2 separate regions of the Homo sapiens genome follow, and region 2 is linked to region 1. Evidence: fine-mapped expression QTL. Tissue or cell type: liver. Region 1 holds a variant in brackets; the other region holds the start of a gene. All regions are shown on one strand. Distances are between the middles of the regions.

The links. PIP is the estimated chance that this variant, and not a neighbour inherited with it, causes the effect.
Region 2: it holds the start of TMED8, and the variant in region 1 is fine-mapped to the expression of TMED8 in liver (GTEx, PIP 0.98).

The regions. Positions count from the first base shown.
Region 1 is chr14:77,325,272-77,333,456 of GRCh38, forward strand. It overlaps GSTZ1 (glutathione S-transferase zeta 1), which reads left to right. Exons shown (of 9, transcript NM_145870.3): 3 at 1,567-1,634; 4 at 2,201-2,281; 5 at 2,641-2,766; 6 at 3,852-3,930; 7 at 4,484-4,536; 8 at 5,039-5,088; 9 at 5,798-6,326. The coding sequence ends at 5,924. Among named protein-coding and RNA genes, the nearest start is that of GSTZ1, 8.3 kb to the left of the region's middle. RefSeq lists an enhancer at 4,331-5,530. The variant G/A (reference allele first, on the strand shown) is at 4,784.
Region 2 is chr14:77,373,040-77,381,211 of GRCh38, forward strand. It overlaps TMED8 (transmembrane p24 trafficking protein family member 8), which reads right to left and starts at 4,055. Exons shown (of 6, transcript NM_213601.3): 1 at 3,897-4,055. The coding sequence starts at 4,014. It overlaps SAMD15 (sterile alpha motif domain containing 15), which reads left to right and starts at 4,340. Exons shown (of 3, transcript NM_001010860.4): 1 at 4,340-6,068; 2 at 7,344-7,442. The coding sequence starts at 4,380. RefSeq lists silencers at 3,633-4,062, 7,456-7,636 and an enhancer at 4,113-4,322.

The sequences.
Region 1 (8,185 bases):
ATTTGAACTGGCAAAGCAAACAGAACGGGCCAGCATCAGCCTCGGAGGCTTCAGAAAAGCAGAAACAAGGGCCCTGTGGCTAGTCCTTGTTTGACCCTTCCCTCCCTTGGCTTAACACAGCCTTTGGCAAAGGTCATAACCAAAGCAGCCTGTACTGAGGAAAAGCTCTGTGCTGAGTGCTTTTGTGTGCCTGATTCCATTTAAACCTCAGCAACCCTAGGAGGGAGGTACTATTATTACTGTCCCCATTGTATAGAGGAGGAAGCTGAGGCACAAAAAACAGGCAACATTCAGTAACTTGCCCAAGATCTTTCAGTTACTAAGAGGCAGAACTGGAATTTGAACCAGGTAGTCTGGCTCCAGAGGCCCATTAAGTTACTTGCCCAGGGCCACACAGTTAGCAAATGACTGTGATGAAATTTGAACCCAAGAAGCTTGCCTCCAGAGTGTGGAGGCAAAGCCATCCTCCGTGACCCCTCCTCCATCCCATAGTCACTTGGTATTTGCTGGGATCAGTAAGCAAGAGCACTGGGTGCCAGGAGAAACTTTCCTCCAAGAAGATGAACCCATCCCTGGGCGCCAGTACCTCTGCCCTGGCTGAGCCAGAAGCCGGAGCAATATAGGTGCTGTCTGTACGGCCTGTGTGCTTTGGCCTTCCCTCCTCCAGGTGTCTCCTCCAGCCCCAAACACTGTCACTCCCCAGACTGGAGCTGACCAACACTAGGAGGAGCCTGGTATTGCCCAGGCTCTCCACACCATGACATGTCTGGTCCTCCTCCCCTCATTCCTTTGCCCTTCCCTGAGATTGGCCATCACCATACTTGAATGCCCAAGTGTGTGTAATACACACATGCATGCACACGCACGCAGTCTTCTCCACTAGTGTTGACCCACCCAAGTTTTTTTTACCCTCAGCTTGCCAGGGGAAATTATCAAAAGGGATGGAGAGGAAATCTGGTGACTGGAGTCACGGCAAATGCTCTGAGGCCACCAAAGAGCCTGATGCCTGTCTAGAATCTCTAGTAAACAGCCCTGAGAACAGAGAGAATAGATTGGAAGAGATTCTTCTCCAACAGAACAAGAGTGCCATCTGTCTGTGTGTGCTGTGTGTGGCCACCTGAGCTCCTTCCCTTGGCCCTTAGTTGCCTTCTTGAGGGAGTAATTGCATGTCTTCAACCAAGACACTGGTCACCACTGTTTAAGGCCCTGGGGGGGCAGAGTTAAACACAACACAGCCTTGCTGAACTCCAGGAGCCCACAGAGTGCCAGGGCATACACCTTTATCACCATCCAGGGGGCATGAGGGCCCCATTGGGGGGGTCCAGATCTTGAGGTCTCTAAGAGTTCAGGGGTGAGTGAGGCAGAGCATCGTGCATCTGGGGTAGGGAGCACGTGGTGACAAGGAAAGCTGAGAGAAGGGGATAGTGCCACGGTGAGCCTTGACCACCCAGAAGTGTTAGAGAAGCCTCCCCCTCTTTGGCCTTAATGTCACCTTAGAAGGGCTCTTTCCTTTAAGAGTACGGCGAGAGGCTGTTCTTTGACTCCGCTATGTGCGGTCTCTCCTAGCTCTGGCCTTGAAAGGCATCGACTACGAGACGGTGCCCATCAATCTCATAAAGGATGGGGGCCAACAGGTAAGAAGGCTGTGCCCAGACCACAATGTGGGAATTGGAGGCCTTGAACAGGCACCAGGCAGGGGAAAAAGGGGAGGCTCTGCCCCAGAGAAGTGAACCTGTGTCTTGTGGACTATCACTGCAGGAGGCTGCTGGCTCTCCCTTGTGGGACAAGGTGGCAAGGTGTGCAGTAGCAGGAGGCCTGGGAAGGGCCCAGGTCCAGACTGTGTACCCTAGCCTGGGCTCTCCAGTGCCTGACCCTGGGAGGGTGGGTGGCTAGTGGGTCCCCACCCCATACTGGGCCCTCTGGATGGCTGACTAGGGTAGGAGCTGCCTTGGTGGCCACGGTGTGAGATGCAGGGAAAGCCCATAGCCAGGCTGTTAGGATGAAGCCTATGGCTCAGCAGCAGCTGGGCTTTGGGAGACTGCATGGATCCCCCAGGGATTACCCTGGGCCTAGGATTTAGGGCCTTCCCAGGGAAGGGAGATGGGGGTGGGTGGCAGGCCTGGGGTTCTCCTGCTTGCTTGGCTTTCCTCTGGCCAACTCAGGCCAGGCCACCCAGCCCACCAGGGCCTTGTCTCCACAGTTTTCTAAGGACTTCCAGGCACTGAATCCTATGAAGCAGGTGCCAACCCTGAAGATTGATGGAATCACCATTCACCAGTCAGTGAGTGCAGGGCCTGGGGGAGGGCCCTCATGAGAGCAGTGCCCTGAATGAGAGCGCCTGACATCTCTTCCTCGCCTGTGTACAGTCAAGGTGCCTAGCACATAGGAGAGGCTCAATACAAGACTCGTGGGGAGGGTGCGAGGTTATTTAGGAAAATAAGGGAAGATTCAAGCACATGGAGAACCAAGTTCTGCATGATAAGGTCCAAAAAGGCTTATAGGGCTTGAGCTGAGCAGAAGCAGGGGGGAAGAGGTGTAGTGATGGTGCTGGAAGAGGAGAAGGAGGAGTTTGCTGGCCCTGTCCCCTCTGGTCCAGGGGTCCTGGGCCCTCTCCCTGCCTCACTGCTCCCCTCTGGACAGCTGGCCATCATTGAGTATCTAGAGGAGATGCGTCCCACTCCGCGACTTCTGCCTCAGGACCCAAAGAAGAGGGCCAGCGTGCGTATGATTTCTGACCTCATCGCTGGTGGCATCCAGCCCCTGCAGGTGTGGCACTTGTACACTTGCACCCTTGCACACCTGACACACTCTTACACTCACACATTGGCTGTGAGCTGCCCAGTGTGGGGGCGGGGGTGTCAAGGGAGGGAGGGGGATTCTCAGGGCCTCTGACCTGGACCATGTGAAAGAAGGGGGTGAAGATCGCAATCTCAGAATTCAGCCCCCCAGCGGGTCCCCCGCTGCGTTCCGAGAAGCTCTAGTTTCCAAGGACGCATGTACAGGTGCTTGGGGTGGGGAAAGGGCCAGAATGGCAGGGGAGAGACTGAGCAGGCCCCAGTCCAGGCCTCCTGCCTTTAACCAGAGCAGCTTCCGTTTCATCTGTGCTATCTCAGTCATATACTGGGATACTTGTAGGATTTTATTTTTTAAGTGTCACTGTTAAAACAGACAACTAAGTATTAAAAACAGTTCATCTGTGCCAGCTTCTACTCTGAATGAGGAAATAGCCCCAGAAAGGTGGAGTGACTTAGGAGTCCCACAGGTAGGTCATAACAAAGTGGGGACTAAGTCAGAATCCCTGCATGCCTATGCCCTCTACCCGCATGTCGCTTTAACAAAGGATGTTGGAGCAGACAGACATCTCCATTTTATAATGAGGAAACAGAGGGAAAATGGCTCCAGGGGTGCCAAGATGGAGCCAGGCTGGAAATCTCTGGAAGCCGGTCTTGTGGACCTCCCTCATCCCAGCCCCACCCTCTTTCACACTCCCTCTCCTCACAAGGGACCATGCAAGGGAGAAGTGAGGGAGACAGGCCTCGAGTTGTGGGCACACCTGCCACAGCCATGGCCGCGTCCTGTGTCACATGAATAGGGATTCTTGCACATCTCTGACAGAATCACGTGGCTTTTTGAGGCCACTGGGGCAGCCTGCAAAGGTGGCTGCTGGGATGGCTACCTCCCTCCAACCTCAGGGCCCTTGGTTGAAGGAAGGGGCTCATGGAGCCTGGGGGAGAAGGGATAGACATCCAGCCAGGGGCAGATGGGAAGTGAACTTCCCTGAGGGGGTTTGGCGAAGGGGTAGCCCCCACCCAGCTGTCAGCGCAATCACAGATTTTCTTTGGGCTGCACAGAACCTGTCTGTCCTGAAGCAAGTGGGAGAGGAGATGCAGCTGACCTGGGCCCAGAACGCCATCACTTGTGGCTTTAACGGTGAGTCCTCACCTCTGTGAGCTGCCCCACAGTGGCCTCTTAGAGGTATGGCCCTCGCACACAGGGGCCTGGGTATCTGAACCAGCCTCCCAGGCTGCTTTGGGCCTGACAGTTGCATGGATGAGGGCAGGACTGGGGAGGCAATGGGCTGGGTGGGCATCCAGACCTTAGCTCCAGCACTTCTGGGAACCTCGGTCCCTGAGCCCACAGCCCTTCATAGCTGGATGGCCCAACTTCAGCTTCACTGCCTACTCCAGCTGGGAAACCAAGGCCAGCACAGCGCCAGCCATCAGAGTGAGAGCTGTCACCGTGGCCAGTGGCAGGGCTTGTCCACTCGAGTGGGGAAATGGTGATTGTCTGTGCGGAGCCTCAGGAAACAGCAGCTCATCCCTAACAGCTCTCTCGAGACCTGGCTGCCACATTCTCACCAGCAGCCATGCCCAGTCTGTCACTCAGTTGGGCGCCCATTTCATAACTATGGAGGCCAAGGCCCAGAAAGCTTTGTGTCCCCTCCCTGCGCCCAGAATAAGATGTTTATGTGGCCTCCCCACAGCCCTGGAGCAGATCCTACAGAGCACAGCGGGCATATACTGTGTAGGAGACGAGGTAAGCTGTCCCCAGACCTCCCCAGGCCCAGCCACAGTGGCTGCCTCCCTCATGCTGACCTCCCTCAAGCTCAGAGCTTCCTGAGAAGGCGTCTGCAGGGGGATCTCTGTGCCATGGGGCACTCCTCAGCTCACTCCCACTAAACCGTCTTAAGAGGGAGTTACTCAAGGTAGAAGACTGGCTGTGAGAGGATGAGGCGGGCCAGCATCAGTTGAGGGATTGTGCTAGATGATGTCTGCGCAGTCAA[G/A]GCAATCCATCTTCTCTGGCCCTCTCAACCCACAGAGTTGGTTGTCAGGGCAACTGGAGCATGGCCTGGGAGGGCACTTCAGCTCCGGGGGACAGACTCATGCAGGCCTAGGGCAGACAAGAATTGGAGGTGGGATGGGTGAAAGAGCCGAAGCAGATTGTTGGTACCCCCAGTAGAGTCGCAGTGGACACACCCAGTCCAGCCACTGACTCTGGGGTATGCACCCTGATGGGAACCCACCGGGACCTCTTTCAGGTGACCATGGCTGATCTGTGCTTGGTGCCTCAGGTGGCAAATGCTGAAAGGTAAGAGAGAGCCCCGCCACCCTCCCTTCTCGTGGCTCTGCCCACAGTCAGGCCCCACTCAGCTGGCGAGATAGCATCTCATGCAGACGCTTCGCCAACCAGCCAAGGAGCCCACCATGCCAGGCCACATAGCCACTTCTGCCTGGAAGAGGGCAGAAGAAATTGGGGCAGTGCTCCTACTACGCCCACCACAGCCCAGATGAACCTGTATAGATAGCCCCAGCTCCTAAGAGGAGGTGGCTCACCTGGTGGACCCCCAAGAGCACCTGCCTGATGTCCTCAAATGTGGTGTGTCTGTGAGCAGTAGTGAGCTCTACCTCTGCATCCTTCCGTGAACCCTTTGGTAGGGCACAAATGAGCACCTCTCTGGAAGGCATCATGCTAGGCGTTAGGGATATGGAAACGTATGGCACATTCCCTGCCCCCAAGAAGCTTACAACATGGGGGAAGAGAGTCTGTATATATAAATGCCTAGCACTGGGCCTTACACATAGCAGGTTCACAAAGAAATAGGAACAGTAGGTAACAGATGCCAAATGATACTGCACAAGACCTACCCATCCCCTGTGAATAAGGGCTGCCCCATCGTCCTTCCCTGGACAGCTCCCTCGACCTCATCCAGCCCTGCCTCTCTGCTCCCCCTGCTGCATCAGGGCAGTCTCCCTGTGTCCCTGAAAACCTTAGCTTAGCAGGTGTTTCTCTACTACAGATTCAAGGTGGATCTCACCCCCTACCCTACCATCAGCTCCATCAACAAGAGGCTGCTGGTCTTGGAGGCCTTCCAGGTGTCTCACCCCTGCCGGCAGCCAGATACACCCACTGAGCTGAGGGCCTAGCTCCCAAATCCTGCCCCGTTGGCACAGGGCCACAGGAGCAGAAGCTGGGTGGGCTGAAGAGGCCTGGAAACGAGAGTCTTAATTGAGGAGATGGGAGACTCGAACTCTAGCCCTGGATCTGCCTTCCTGCTGAAACTTGTTCCACCTCAGTCCCCTCATCTGTCACACGCATGTGGGGTGGAGTAGGGAGATGCGGGGAGCAGGGTGGGCAGGAATACTGTTATCTATGTGACGGGGCAGTCGTGAGGCTGAGATGAGAATGCGGATTAAAATGCCTGGCGTGCTCACCGTAACACCACGGGGAAGGCTGTGTGCCTTTTCTCATCCGCTTTTGTTGTGTGTGACTCCAAAGAATGCCCGCGCTGAAATTTGGCGTGAATTAAACTGAAGCCCAGGCCTCTACCTTGTTTGTCTAAGACTGAGCTAGGTTCCAGAAGATGAACACTGTCCCTAGCTGGAATCCCCTGTGCCTGGACCAGTAGAGGAAGTCAGTCAGCCACTTGCCTACCCTGTGGCAGGCCTGGCCCATGGGACCTAAGGGCAATGATGAGAAATATACCCAAAAGCCTGCCTGAAAGAATCAGACAAGATCCAGGGAGATAACAGATAGAAGCAGGAAAGCATCTAGTGACTGGCTGAGTTCTCAGGGCTAGGAATGGTACCGTTGTTAAATGTTCCACTCCAGGCTGGGCGCAGTGGCTCATGCCTATAATCCCTGCACTTTGGGAGGCCGAGGCAGGTGGATCACTTGAGGTCAGGAGTTCAAGACCAGCCTGGCCAACATGGTGAAACCCCGACTCTACTAAAAATACAAAAATTAGCCGGGTGTAGTGGCAGGTGCCTGTAGTCCCAGCTGAGGTGGGAGAATGGCTTGAACCTGGGAGGTGGAGGTTGCAGTGAGCCGAGATTGCACCAGTGCACTCCAGCTTGGGAGATAGAGTGAGACTCCATCTAAAAAAAAAAAACATATTCCACTCCAGCACTGAGAGGCCATTTGGCCCTCTCAACCAGTCCCTCGTCTTCAGGGCCAGCATTCTCCAGACCAGTCCCAGGATTAGGCACTCGGGGTAAATCCAGTCACAGATGGTGCTGGGAATGGGAGGCAGGCTCCCCCGTGGGCAGTGTGAGCAGCTACTGACCAGGCCAGCTTAGGAGACCAAGCAGGTAGCAGTGTACCACAGGCTGCCCTGGAGGGAGCAAGTTCCCATGCTTGGCAGTGTTCAGGCAGAACCAGGACCACCTCTGGGCAGAGATGCCGTACAGAGATTGGGGTAGCTTCTGGGGATGAAATGAGATGACTTTTTAGGAGCTTTACCTCTTGAAGGCCCCACCTCTGAATACTGTTGTATTGGAGATTAAGTTTCAACATGAATTTTAGAGGGGACATAAACATTTAAATCGTAGCAAAGACCATCACCTTTTTACAGGACATTTTCCAGTAGGGGCTTCTCTCAAACGGATGAGTGGTAAGTCAAGTCCTTCCTTTCCATATCACACTCAGCAGACACCTGATCCTGATATGCTAGAGGCACAGGGAGACTAGATATGTACGTGGTCTTCCCAGAGTGGGAGTGGCCACAGTGAAGGAAGAACAATGATGGAGGGGCCTGATACTGGTAATTCCAACTCTATGGAAGTAACAAGTCCCCAGAAATACTTCAGGAGGAGGAAAGCAGTAGGGAGGTGCTATCAGGAAATACCTGAGAACAAAGCAAAAATTATAGGCTGTGTTCCTCAGAAATTTTACATATCCATTAAGGAAAGTGGCAAACTTACTGGATAAACAGGTGATACACATACTCATACTATTTTTTTTTATTTTTATTTATTTATTTTTTTTTTGTGATGGAGTCTTGCTCTGTCATGCCCAGGCTGGAGTGCAGTGGTAAGAGCTCAGGTTCATTGCAACTTTCCACCTCCTGGGTTCAAGTGATTCTCCTGCCTCAGCCTCCCGAGTACTGGGATTACAGGCGCGTTGGTTAAGCTGGTCTCGAACTCCTGACCTCAGGTGATCTGCCCACTTCGGCCTCCCAAAGTGCTGGGATTACAGGCGTGAGCCACCACGCCTGGCCAAGATACGGCTCCTCCTAACTTTTAGTGTTTTGTTTTTGTTTTTTTTTTTTTTTTTGGAGACAGAGTCTCACTCTCTCGCCAGGCTGGAGTGCAGTGGAGCGATCTCGGTTCACTGCAACCTCCGCCTCCCAGGTTCAAGGGATTCTCCTGCCTCAGCCTCCCAAGTAGCTGGGACTGCAGGCCCACGC
Region 2 (8,172 bases), 48 kb after region 1:
ACTGCAACCTCTGCCTCCTGGGTTCAAGTGATTCTCCTGCCTCAGCCTCCTGAGTAGCTGGGACAGATATGAAATATTTTCATCACTGCAAAAAGACTTATTGTAATATTCTAACTTCTACCTTAGAACCATGAACAAGTTTACCTGACCTGTTTCCATCCTCAACATCTAAATGTATTGATAGCTCTGGGGGACATACACACCAAACTAAGTTCTACTGCTGACTTCAGGATCACAATAGAGTTTTATTTTCCTTTAAACTTAAAAAAAAAACAAAAACAAAAACAAAAAAACCTGCCTTTAAGTGATGCAACAAGTATGCCTCAGATAGTTTCATAATTAAAGAATGATTTATCTCTCCTCTGGGGAACTGAAGAACCCAGGTGCCTCAAATAAAAGACTATTAAAAACAATTACAATGCATAAAACAATAAGAACACCATGACCACTGGAGAGCTTAGTTCATAAGAACATAAATCCTTTCCTTCCTTTTCACCAAAACCTCAGCTAACAAACATGAAGACACTCAATAGGTATTCTCTGCAGAGAACACTTTTAAAAAACAAGTTATGGTTATTCTGGATAATGACACATTCCTGCTTTGAAGGAATAAGATACACCAAAAAACCAAAACCCTTAACTCAACAATACCTGATATGGCTTGGATGTTTGTTCCCTCCAAATCTCACGCTGAAATGTGATTTCCAATGTTAGAGGTGAGGTCTGGTGGGAGGTGACTGGATCGTGGAGATGAATCCCTCATGAATGATTTGGCATCATCCTCTTGATGATAAGTGAGTTCTCACTCAGTTAGTTCACCTGAGATATGGTTGTTTAAAAGAGTCTGGGACCTCCTCCCGTCTCTCTCTCTCTCACTCCCAACTCTCGCCATGTGACATACCTGCTCCCCCTTTCAGTATGATTCTAAGCTTCTTGAGGCCCTCACCAGAAACAGATACCAACACCACACTTCCTGTACACCCTGCAATACCATGAGCCAATTAAAACTCTTTTCTTATAAATTACTCAGTCTCAGGTATTCCAAATGGACTAACAGAACACCTGAATATCCAATTCCATTTCTTACTGCTGTTTTCTCTCTGAAAGGGTGAGAGAAATCTCATTAAATTTCATTCTTTCTTAGAGCTCTATTGCTTACTCATTGTATCATTTTCTAGAGGAAGATGGCAGAAGGATCCAATCAAACGAATTCCAAGTTTAAAGCAGTTTTTTGGGGTTTACGCCCAAGCCTCTGGTCCAGGCCAAATATAGTATTTCCACACTGCTTTGGAAGCCCAGCTTAACTCTAACACAGCGTTCCCAAAAGCAGCACCACTGACATCTGGAGCCAGATACCTCCTTGTTATGGGGATTGCCCTGTGCCTTGCAGGATGTTTAGCAAACATCCCTAGCCTATCCTCACTAGATGTCAGCAATAGCTGCCACCAGTTGTGACGAGCAAAAATGTTTCCAAACATTGCCATGCCCTGGGGATACAAAATCGTACCTGGTTGAAAACCATTGCTCTAACCCAAGGAACATTCTTGGTTATCTCAACCCTAATTCTTCACATTCATTAGATGCTCATCCAGATCTCTGCATTCAGACTTTCTCTCACCATCAAACTCAGCAAATATTTGCGAAACCTCTAAAACACAACATCAAGGGCTCTAGATAAATAAACAAGCAAGAGAGATTCCGTTCCTAACTCCAAGCAGGTTTCTTAGTAGATAAAGAATTGTAATAAAAGACGCCCAATTATATAATGTTTTGAATTGTTAATTGTTTCTCCCTGAAATGGATCTCTCATCTCATCAAACTGAAAACACCTTGAGGACAGAGACCATAACCTGTCTGCGAGTACCAATACTTGATTCATGGCCAATAAAAACAAACAATTATAGACTTCATCATAACAAGATGACAATTTCATCCAGACAGTAAAAACTTGCGCTAACTTGAACAGGTAAGTTAACCTTTCTCAGCTGTAGTTTGTTCCTCTGTAAAATGGGAAGAAAATGATTGTTGACATGACTAAATCAGAAAATATAAATTTTTTTCCACCTCTGGCACAGAATAAGCATTCAATATCTGTAGGTTATCATTACTATTATTTTATTAGCAACAAATCCTACCTCAAGAGGAAGAGCTTGCTCTGGGCTACTATAATAAACCCCTACATGACATTAAAAAAAAAAATTATCACCCTGCATTCTGAGGGTAAGAGGAAGGAAAGTAAGCATCTCTACCAATGTCCTGGGAGGAAGTGAATGCAGGAATGAATTAGATGTCAGGGGGAAAAAAAAACACACTCATCTATCTAAAACGCGTGGGTACGTTTGCCATAAACACATGAGAACCTAAAGGGGAAGTAAAAACATGCTTAATTTGTAAATACTGGCGCATGCAAGGGACAAGTGTTATAAGACTTACCTTTCTGTGTTTACTTGCTTAGTCTTTTAGACATTATGCTTAGAATTTCTACTGCTATGTTAAATATATGCCAACGATTTTTAATTTAATACAAAGCAGAGTTCGTAAGAAAAAAAGGCAAAATTTGTCAGGTGTTTTAAAGTAAAAGAATATAAAATCATGGGAAAGAGCTGGGTGAGTTGTGTGTGTGTTTGAATAAGGCAGCATTATGAGAGGGAAGATACTTGGGATCAGAGTAGAAGACAGAAAAAGGCACCATGTTGGAAGCCATACATCCAAGAACACCTCTGGCGGCACAGGAAGTTCAACTGAACAAAAAGAGACCTTACTGTCACAATGGTTGAGACGAGTATAGTGTGTACCATGGACTATACCCCAAATGCCTTAGACAAAGCAGCTCAAGTAATCCTCACAATAATCCTATGAGGCAGATATTTTTAGTAATCACATTTTACAGATGAGGAAACTGACGTTTCAGACTCCAATCCAGGCACCCTGGCTCCACAGTAGTGCCTCAACCATTATACTTTATGGTGTCTATTTTAATTTCAGACCTAGAAAATTAATTTATATTTGCTACTTAAATAAGACAAGTTCTCTCCCCTCTACCCTTTCGTATTTCAAAAGAGCATCCTTTCAGTTGCATCGTGTGTGGTGTTCAGGAGGCTGAAAGAAGAAAGTGTGATGGATGGACTCTTTTGTCTTTGGACACTGAAATAATACACACGGAGGAACTCGCGTTAGTAGAAATGGAGACGTCGTCCTGGACAAGAAGAGGATGAGGGTCTTGAGAATGAGGGAGGTAGGCCAAATTTTTAATTCCTGCTCTTGCTTTGGCTACTGTGTTCAAGCAAAAGACCCCAGACACTACCTATTTCAACTCTGCTTTTCATTTTTCCCACTCTAAGCGATGGAGAGGATGGCAGCAAGGCCAGGGGGCCTATGTGCAGGAAGGCTAGGGCGCAGTGGGCTTCTGGCAGAGGAAGGCAAGGCTGCCAACCCGGGTGGGGGCCGAGAGGCGCGTGGTAAGGCTGGGGCAGGGGACTGAGATGGGGATAGGGTGGGGAGCCAGAAGCAGGGGGCGGCGAGGCCAGTAGGGTTCGGGTCGGCAGTCTAGATGTGATTAGCAGACGGAGGTGGGACCCGAACCCCGGCTGAAGCTGAAACTGAAGCTGAAGAGGCGCCAGGGGCAGAGCCACCCTGTCACTACCATTTGGGCAGATCTCAGAAAGGAAGCGGGGCAGGAATCAAGGCATTTCGAAACAGGAGTGAGTAGAAAATAACCTCGAGCCCAGGGCCCGGGTGGTGGCAGCGGCGGGGAAGGGGCCCCGCGCGCGAAGGGGCTGCCGAGGTGGGTCCGCTCCGCGGGGAAGCCCAGGACAGAGCGCGGCGGAGGCTCGCGCCGTGGTGCGGGGCCCTGAGGCCGGGCGGCACCCACCCGCCAGCGCCCCGGCCTTGCGTACCTGAGGCGGCCGCCTGGCTCCCCTCCACTCCCTGGCAGTCCCCGACGCCGCCAGCCGACCCTGGGCGGGCTGTGGGGCTCCAGGAGCCCGGCCCCTCAGCCGCCTGCAGGTCAGACATCTGCAGCCCGCGCACGGAGCTCTCCGCTGCCAGCCGCGAGTGGCTCCGGAAACAGCCGAAGGCCGAGCGAGCGCCGAGCACAGCCGAGCGCAGCCTGCAGGCCGGAAGAAGCGGCGCGGCGGCCGCTTGAAAAGCTAGCTGACCCAGGGGCGGCCACAGGAGCTCTGGCCCGCTGAGGCTGGCGATGAGGCCGCAGGGAGGGTTACTGCGTGCTTGTGACAGACGATTTTTAAAGTCAGGGCTTGAAAGAACAAACAAAACCTGGGGAAGAGTCAGGAAGACACTGCCGGAAATCGTGGTATCCATAGAGACGCTATCGGAAGTTGGGGTTGCTAGGAAGCCGCGGCGCGTCTGCTAAGCTGCAAATGGCTGAAGTCCCGGAGGATTATGATTCCGGCCCAGATGAAGATGGAGAGCTGGAGCCTGAGAGGCCTGAACTGCCTGGACTTCATAAATTGTATGAAAATGCCGAACCAGACACCATGGCAAAGGCAGACTCGAAGCTACCAGCAGAGATTTACCAAGAGCCACAGCCAGAGACCGAGGAAGAGGACTTCAAAGAGGGGGAGCCAGACAGTGCTAAGAACGTGCAGCTGAAACCTGGCGGGACGTCCCAGGAAGGAATTGCCAAGGAGTCCAAGAGAGACGTACCAAGCGAAACTGAACCAGGGATACACCAAGAGGTAAAGTCGGAAACATCCAGAGAGATGGGAGAGTTTTTCAAAGATTTGGAGGCCCCTATGGATGAAACGCATAAAGAGTCAGACCTAGAGCCACCAGAGGAGGCTAAACCAAATGTTACAGAGGATGTGTTCCTAGAGTCAGCTATGGAAACAGATCCAGATCCAGTGCCACCAACGGAAACCATGTCTGAGGTTTCGGGGGCCACAGTCAGAGAGAGAAATTTAGAATTACTAGAGGAGGAGACTGAACCGGGGGTTCCAGAGGAATCACTTAGAGTGCAACATGAAGAGACAGGTCTAGAGCCTCCAGAGCAGACCAAACAAGATTTTCCAAGTGAGAAACTAGGAGAATCACTTGAAGAGACAGATCTTCAGCCACCAAAGATGACCAAACCAGAGACTCCAGAGGAGACACAAAGAGAGTCAACTGAGAAGAAAAGGACAGAGCCACCCGAGCAGGCTAGACTGGAATTTCTGGAGAAGGAACCAAGAAAGTCTAGTGAGGAGGCAGGTCTAGAGCCTCCAGAAGAGACTCAACCAGAGGTTCCAGAGGAGATGCAAAGAAAGGCAACTGAGGAGAAAGGGACAGAACTACCTGAGCGGACTAAACCAGACTTTCCAGACCACAAGCCAAGAAAGTCTACTGATGAGAACGTTCCTGAGCCACTAGAAGAGATCAAATTAGAGTTTCCTGAGGAAGAATCAAGAAAAACAAATGAGGAAACAATTCTAGAACAATCAGAAATGATGAAACCAGAAAGTCCAGAAGAGATAAGAAAGTCAAATGAGAAAAAAAATCCACAGCCACCAGAGGAGACTGGTCCAGTGCTACCACAGGAGATCAACCCACAAGTTGAAGAGAAAACACAAACAAAGCCAACTGAGAAAATTCTAGAGTTACCAGATGAAACCAAACCAAGGGAGACACATGTAGAATTTTCCAAGGAAGACAGGCCAGAACCAATAAAGTCTAAGTATTCTGTAGGAAACGATGAGCTAGAGCACCGTGAGCCTAAAAGAGGAAAGTTGTCACTAAGTGACAAATTTAGAAAAGAATATTACGCATTAGGATCTCTCAGAGAAAGTGAAGAATCAATTGGTACACATTATGAGTTTTTGCAACCACTCCAAAAATTGCTTAATGTCAGTGAAGAATGCTCATACTCAGATCCCTCAGAGTCTCAGACAGAATTAAGTGAGTTCGTTCATGAAAAGGAAGTTGTAGATTTGTCCCAAGAGTTGAAGGAACGGGTCTCTGAAGATGACGAAACCCAGCCAGAAAAAGGGACTGAGTTACAATTTGAGCATCTTAATTGGGATCCAGAGGAAGTTGCAGAGTGGATTAGCCAGCTAGGCTTCCCTCAATACAAGGTATACAAAAATAAGATGTTTTGAAATCACATGCTGTCATCCGTCTACTTCTTATTCCTTCTAACTTGGCCTGAGCTCTTACCTCTTTACCGGAAGGAGTATCAAAAAGTCCTAGACTGTGGTAGAGGTAACTTGGATTTTAATTTTGGCCTTGCCACTGATGTATATTTGTATTTTGGGAGAGGAAGGGAGGGTCACATCGGTTTGTTTTTCCTCTTCCAGTGATTACACTTCTCTGCAATCCTTGAATAAAAGACCAAGAAGAGTATATAGACCTCCTTTCTTTTTTTTTTTTTGAGACACAATCTCGCTCTTGCCAAGGTTGGAGTGCAGTGGCACGATCTCGGCTCACTGCAAGCTCCACCTTCCCCAGGTTCACGCCATTCTCCTGCCTCAACCTCCTGAGTAGCTGGGACTGGGACTACAGGCGCCCGCCACCATGCGCGGCTAATTTTTTGTATTTTTAGTAGAGACGGGGTTTCACTGTGTTAGCCAGGATGGTCTCCATCTCCTGACCTCGTGATCCGCCAGCCTCAGCCTCCCAAAGTGCTGGGATTACAGGCGTGAGCCACCGTGCCCGGCCTTAGACCTCCTTTCATAGAAAACTGTATTTTTAAGTAGACTTTGTTCAAGGTAGGCTTTTTGGTACTTTGTCAAGTTATTTTAGTGGCAGCTCCCTTGCTTTGAACTTGTGCTATTACTTTTTAAAGTGTCTGCCCCAAATATGTCACCTGTATCATGAGCACTTAAGTGTATTAATTCAAGTTAGCCAGTTAACCAAAACTAGTTTTAGTAAAAAGTCAGTGTAAACCTCTTGTTTCACTGATGCCAACTAGGTTTAAGGCTACCACAAAACAATACAAGATCTGAAACCTTTTGTACCTACTATACTTACAAATGTAATTGAGACATGAAGAAGCACTGGTTGTACCATGCCCAAAAAAACAGTTAAAGAGCAGTGTAAAATTTAATAAAGAGCTTACATGGAAAAATTGTGCCGTTATTGGGATAGAAAGTAAATTTAAGCTACTCAGGAGGCTGGGGCAGGAGGACTGCTTGAGTCCAGGAGTTCGAGGCTGCAGTGATCTATGACTGCAGCACTGCACTCCCGCCTGGATGACAGAGTGAGACCCTGTCTCTAAAAAAGAAAAAACAAAATAATATTTTTTTCTCAGGGTAGAACAAACACGACTTCTTCCCTTCCTCCCCCTTCCCTCCCTTTCTTCCTTCTATTTGCAGTACATTTTTTAAGTGATGTCCTTGTTGTATTGACAGGAGTGTTTTATCACAAACTTCATCAGTGGCCGAAAACTCATTCACGTCAACTGCTCAAACCTCCCTCAGATGGGGATAACAAACTTTGAGGACATGAAGGTGAGTTGTGTCCAAAGTTTCCCTACAGAGCACTGTTAACAGTGCCACCATCTGTCTCAAACCAACCTTTTTTTCCTCCAGCCTGGCCTCCCACTTCTGTCAATGGTGTCATCATAATTCCAGTTCCTCAGGCTCACGGTGGTTGCCTCCTCTTTCTCCTTTGATCCCCATAAATATTCCAAGAACTGTCCATTGCTCCTGTGGCACTTACACCGTCTGGCTTTCTTCATTCCCACTTTTCAGACCTTATGGCCTCATGCCTAGAACACCACAGTGGCCTCCCGCTTTTAGCCTGTCTCAATGGACCCTTTGGATTCAAGGGCCCTGCTTTTATGCTCTCACTTTCCACCTACTTATGTACTATTCAAAAACCTTCTTTGGATCCCTTCTGCTTACCAAGATAGTCTCCACTCCCTAGTTTAGAATTTAGGGCCCTCCACAAGTTCTCTCCCCTACCACTCCTCCACATGAATTTTGTGCTCCAGCCTACCACCAGGTCTAACACCTTCGCAAACCTGCCTGGTGCGTTCTTCTCTCTATGTCTTCGCTCAGTTCCCCCATCCTCTGTATTACTAATATGAATCTTAATCATCCTTCAAGACCAGTTCCTCATTTGCATCTCCCCAAGAAGTCTTTTGTAACATTCCCAGCCCACAGTAGCCCCCATCCCAAGTTCTCATGACATTTTGTGTCTCTGACACCCATTTGGCACTTATATAACACCATATGT